2 separate regions of the Homo sapiens genome follow, and region 1 is linked to region 2. The links come from fine-mapping of genetic effects on gene expression. A gene starts in region 2. The other region holds a variant in brackets. All regions are shown on one strand. Distances are between the middles of the regions.

Region 1 (2,909 bases), 24 kb before region 2:
CCACTTCATCCCCCAGAGAGGAGGGGTTGGGGACTCATCTTCACTCAATGCCAACTCTCAGAGCAATGAGGAAACAACCTCACATTTCACTGGCCCGCTATGGGGCTGCAGGGAATTCACTACAGACTTCTGGGCCTCCATCTCCTCTTTGGTAAACTGAGGAACCAGCTCAGAACTTGCAAACGGGCAGCCAAAACCAGACCCTCAGACGTGCTTTGGGTTTGTTTGTTTGCATTATGATTTTTGTTTGTTTTGGTTCCTTCATATTGTAGCTCACACAGTGCTTGCTTGCTTGCTTTATTTATTTATTTATTTTATTTTATTTTTATTGAGATGGGGTCTCGCTCTGTTGCTCAGGCTGGAGTGCGGTGGCACTATCTTGGTTCACTGCAGCCTTGACTGCCCAGGCTCAAACAATCCTCCAACCTCAGCCTCCTGGGTAGCTGGGACTACAGGCGTGTGCTTGCCACACTGGGCTAAACTTCCACACAGTGTTTTGAAAATTGCAAATCGAATCACGAGCATATAGGGTTTCAAAACTTTTACATAAAGATCTAGATTTCTGTGTTTTTCTATTTGTTTGTTTGTTTGTTTTCTGAGACAGAGTCACTGTCATTCAAGTAACTGTAGTGTAATGGCGCGATCTCGGCTCACTGCAACCTCTGCCTCCCAGGTTCAAGCGATTCTCCCGCCTCAGCCTCCCAAGTAGCTGGGGATTGCAGGCATGTACCACCACACCTGGCTAATTTTGTGTTTTTAGTAGAGATGGGGTTTCTCCACGTTGGTCAGGCTGGTCTCGAACTCCCAGTCTCAGATGATCCATCCACCTCAGCCTCCCAAAGTGCTGGGATTACAGGTGTGAGCCACCTCACCCAGCCAATGTCAGCTTTTTAAAATAAAATAAAATAAATGCCTGCATTTGTACTGTTAGCCAATTCCCATAGTGTAAATATTCCATTAGGGCCAATTTCAACATACCAACAGTTTAACAACTGGCTCACCACTGCCCCCCCAAAATCGTGAATATTTAATGATTTTTTGGGGTTTTTTTTTATTGTTTTTTTTTGAGACAGAGTCTGGCTGTGTTGCCCGGGCTGGAGTGCAGTGGCGTGATCTTGGCTCACTGTAATCTCAGCTTCCCGGTTCAAGTGATTCTCCTGCCTCAGCCTCCCGAGTAGCTGGGATTACAGGCGCCCGCCACCATGCCCGGCTAATTTTTGTATTTCTAGTAAAGACAGGGTTTCACCATGTTTGTTAGGCTGGTCTAGAGCTCTTGATCTCAAGTGACCTGCCCCCCTTGGCCTCCCAAAGTGCTGGGATTACAGGCGTGAGCCAATACGCCCGGAACTTTTCTTTTTTTTCTTTTTCTTTTCTTTTCTTTTTTTTTGAGATGGAGTCTTGCTGTGTGTCACCCAAGCCTGGAGTGTAGTGGTGCCATCTTGGCTCACAGCAACCTCCGCCTCCCGGGTTCAAGCCATTCTCCTGCCTCGGCCTTCTTAGTAGCTGAGACTACAGTTGAGCACCACCACACCAGCTAATTTTTGTATTTTTAGTAGATATGAGGTTTTACCATGTTGGCCTGGCTGGCCTCAAACTCCTGACCTCAAGTGATCAGCCTGCAGCGGCCTCCTAAGCACTGGGATTACAGGCGTGAGCATGACTTGTGGACTCCCCCCATTTAGCCCTCACTGTAACCCCCATGTTATGGATTGAATGTTAG[A/C]GTCCCCTGAAGATTCATATGATGAAAACTAATACCCAACGTGAGAATATTAAGAGGTAGCGTGTCTGTTGAGCAGTCTAGGGATGGATGGATGGATGGACAGATGGAGATATAACGATAGATAGATAGATAGATAGATAGATAGATAGATAGATAGACAATAGATAGTAAATAGGTAGGACTTTTGGGACATGATCACATCATGAGGGCTTCATCCTTGTGAATGGGATTCATGCCCTTATTTTATTTATTTTTTATTTATTTTTTTTTTGAGATGGAGTTTTGCTCTTGTGTTCACTAGGCAAATGCAGGAAGAAAGAACAACATTTTATTAATATGTGGAGCCAATGGCCTGTGCAAAAGTCCTGTAGTGGGGTGGAGGAAGGAAGGGCTGAAGGAACTGGGTGATGAGCTGGACCTGGAATGCAGACTAACTGGGGAGGGTGGAGGGTACGAGGTAGACAGGGACCACCCCATCAGGAAACTTCTAGTTGTTTTTTTTTTTTTTTTTTGAGACAGGATCTCACTCTATCGCCCAGGTTGGAGTGCAGTGGTGCAATCTTGGCTCACTGCAACCTCCACCTCCCGGGTTCAAGCGATTCTCCTGACTCAAGCCTCCTGAGCAGCTGGGATTACAGACATGTGCCACCACACCCAGCTAACTTTTATGGATTGGGGACCCAGTTAGCAATCACCTGTGAGAGAGACCAGGACTGGAGCGGCTTGGACCAGGATACTCCTATCATCGACCTCCTCCCACAGCAAGGAAGAAGCAGAGTTGAGGTTTGAACCTGGTGTATGGAACCCCAGAGCCGGAACCCTTTAGCAGGGGAGAGGAAGGGGTGAGGGGAGGGGCAGTCACCCAGGGAAATTGAGTAGAATTAACTAACCCCTGCTGGGTCCTGGCAGAGCCCCTGGTGCCAGGGCCCCCAGGAGAGGAAGCAGAAAAAAAAATCACCTCATGCCACCAGCAGGTTCTTAAAACAATCTCACCCCTCAAGCAATAAAGACGGAAGCAAGAAAGTCAAGGCCAGCATCCAAAACCACAATTCAGATGTTCTCTGGTCTGTGGTATTGGGGTTGATGGATAAAGATCGTAGATGTGATAGTGTCCAACAGACATGGTGGGTATCAGTCACAGGACAGCCCTCATGGCACCTGCTCCATCAGAGTGGATATTGGTGGGGAG
Region 2 (2,909 bases):
ACCCAGATGTGACTCCAGAGTCCACACCAGTTCCACCTAGTACCCCGGCACCAGCACCCACATATGCTGGGTTAATATCATGGCTAAGAGGCTGTGGAGTCTGGCTGCCTGGCTTCAACTTCCAGCTCTGCCACTCATCAGCAGTGTGACTGTGGACGTGTGACTTACCCCCTCTGTGCTTCATTTCTCCACCTGAGACACAGGACTAACAAGAGCTCCTTCCTCTCAAGAGGCTGCTGGGAGCAGGAGTTAGAAGCAGCCTCCAAAGGCTAAGTGCTCGACAAAGACCGGTTTGTCTACTCTAGGTTCCCAACCTCGACATTAATGGCACTTGTGTCGTGGCGGGCTATCCTGTGCAACATACGATGTCTACCAGCATCTCTGCCTCTTTTCATGAGATGCCAGTAGCACTTCCCAAGTTGGAAAAACCAAAAAAAAAGTCTCCAGACATTGCCACATGTCCCCTGGGGGACAAAACCACTCCTGGTTGAGAGCCGCTGGCCCACTGGACAAATATTTACCTACGGCACAAAGGCTCTGGGGCAAATTCCAGCTCTGCCTCCTACCAGCTCTGTGTCCTTGGACGAGGTACAAGGCACCTTTTGTAATACCCTGTATCTCCATTTCGTTGACTGTAAAGTGATAGAAGGAGAACAAAAATGCTGAGAACCACACCTGGCTAGTAAGTGTCCAGTCAGACTTAGGGTTACTTTGTCGAAGTTTCCCTGCGAGGTGCCCAGGGGACACTGCTATGAACACGCACGCAGATTAAAATACTAAGTATACATTGGAATAGGCGTTAAAATCGGATATAGAGGAGGGTGACTCCATCCTGACTGGGGTAGAGGTGGCGGGGGTCAACTTCATTTGACAATAAACAGAGTTTCTAAGCACTTTACACATATTACCGAAGGTAATAATGCCTTGCAACAAGCTAAAAAGGCAGATGCTCCGCACTGAGAAAGCAGCAAAACAGAGCAACGATTCTTATCTTCAGGAATCTCACAACTCTGTAAAAGTTGCACTTGTAGAAGCAGCGCGCAAAACGAGCCACCTGCGCCGTATCTACGTTACAACAATAACCATCGTCCCCGGAAGCCCCTTCCCGCAAACCTTTCCGAAGGGGTCCGGTCCCGGCGCCCCCAGACTCCTTTGTAGGGTCCAGCTTCCCACTCAGCTTTCATCTCACAGCCCACCCTCTGCTAGGGTCCCCTTCCCCTCCCCCACCTGTCCCTCCCCCGTCCCGCCCCTCCCCCTCCCCCAGGCGCCCCTCCCCCGTCCTCTCCCTCAGCATTTCTCTCCCGCGTTCAGGACCTCGAGGATCCACGACCCCCTCCCACTATCCACCCCTCCCCCTCTCCAAGTCCCTCCCCCTCTAGTTCCCTCTCCCAGCCCCTTCCCCATCACTCAGCCCCCTTCTCCTCCCCTCCCCGCAAGTCTCCCATCTTTCCCTCCTGAGGCCCCCGGCGCCCCTCTTCCCATCCAACCTCTGGTCCCTCCCTCGTCCAACCGCCCCCACCCAATCCCTCCCTCCTTCCCCCCTCGCTCACCTCACTCTCTCAGGCGAGGCCCCCCAAGCCCCCTCACCTCCCCGCACATGCGCACAAAGCTCGCCGGGACTCCATGCCCCAGCAGGCTTTGCGCCAAACTCCCCCGTCCCCCTCCCCCAATCCCATACTCCGAGCCGCTCGTTCAGCCCAACAACTCCCCATGAAGCCCCGGCCTCACCCCGAACTACAACTCCCAGGAAGCATCGCGGCAAAGGCGGCTGCCAATTGGCCCTCGCCTGGGGACCGCCTTACTCCTGTTTGTCACCGCGTGGCGTCTTCGCCAACACTGGAACTACATTTCCCAAGATACGCGAAAGCGTCGTCTGCAGCCTATTTGGCCTTGACGGCGCAAATGTCGCGGGCTGTCTGAGCGCGACAGGCTTTGGACTACATTTCCCAGAATGCACGAGGAGGCTTCCCAGTGGTCTGCGCGCGGGCCCTGGACATGCGCAGAAGTGCCGGGAAAAAAAGAGGGAGGAGGAGGAGGAGCCATGGCGGCGTTGTTGTGGAGATCAGGGGAGGCCGGGCACCGCCGGGCATTTGGGAGGTGGGGCCTCCGGAGCTCTAGAAGCTGGCAAGCGAAGAGGAGGAGGAGGAGGAGACCAGGCTAGAGTTCTGCGCCAATCAGGAGTGCAGGCTACGTCTCCTTGACTACGGATCGCATTTTTTTTTGTCCTCCCTCTCCACCCGGGCAGAACTTAAGGGCCGATGTCGGTGCCAGGAATCAGGACGTGAGCAGGCTGCCCTCCTGTTCCGGGGTGGGCAGTGGCTCAGGAGGGGGCCAGCGCGGGGGCCTCGGTTTGGCTCTTCCTGTGTGTGAACCTGGACAGGACACCGCCCTCTCTTTAGCCTCAGTTTCCCCTGGGGTGAATTGGGGGACAGCGCTACCTGCCACGCGTCCTCGCTGTGCCCCTATTGGACAGACTACTGCCCCGTCCTGAGGCCTCAGTTTCTGCATCTCAGAACTGTGAAGAAGCATATTTGGATTTTAGAGCAGACAGACATCCTAAGAGATCAGCTGAAGTTTTTATCTAGACAGTTCCAGACCTGATTATGGCTCATACAAGCCCTACCCCAGCCCGCAGCGTATTTCCTCCTCCGTACAACAAGGATAAGAGAATCCCCCTCCCATCCTCCACCTCCCCGGCTGATCTGAAGACTCCGCGCCATAAAAACGAAGACAGTGGCTTACCCATAACAAGCATTCATTACATGGAAGTTGTTCGTCTTATATTCATAAATGAACAACTTTCCCCAGGTTTCACAAGCGATGAGTGGCTGACTCAGAACTTTGTGACCAGTTTGCCCACGGTGGCCTAATCTGCCCTGGCCCACCTGTCTACCACTGTCTTCTCCTCG

Evidence for each region. PIP is the estimated chance that this variant, and not a neighbour inherited with it, causes the effect.
Region 1: its variant is the best candidate, but not a certain one, in a credible set for the expression of ZNF444 in fibroblasts (GTEx, PIP 0.53).

Annotation. Positions count from the first base shown.
Region 1 is chr19:56,163,963-56,166,871 of GRCh38, reverse strand. No RefSeq gene overlaps it. Among named protein-coding and RNA genes, the nearest start is that of GALP, 11 kb to the left of the region's middle. The variant A/C (reference allele first, on the strand shown) is at 1,721.
Region 2 is chr19:56,139,999-56,142,907 of GRCh38, reverse strand. ZNF444 (zinc finger protein 444) reads right to left here and starts at 1,621. Exons shown (of 5, transcript NM_018337.4): 1 at 1,551-1,621. RefSeq lists enhancers at 1,659-1,798, 1,829-2,158.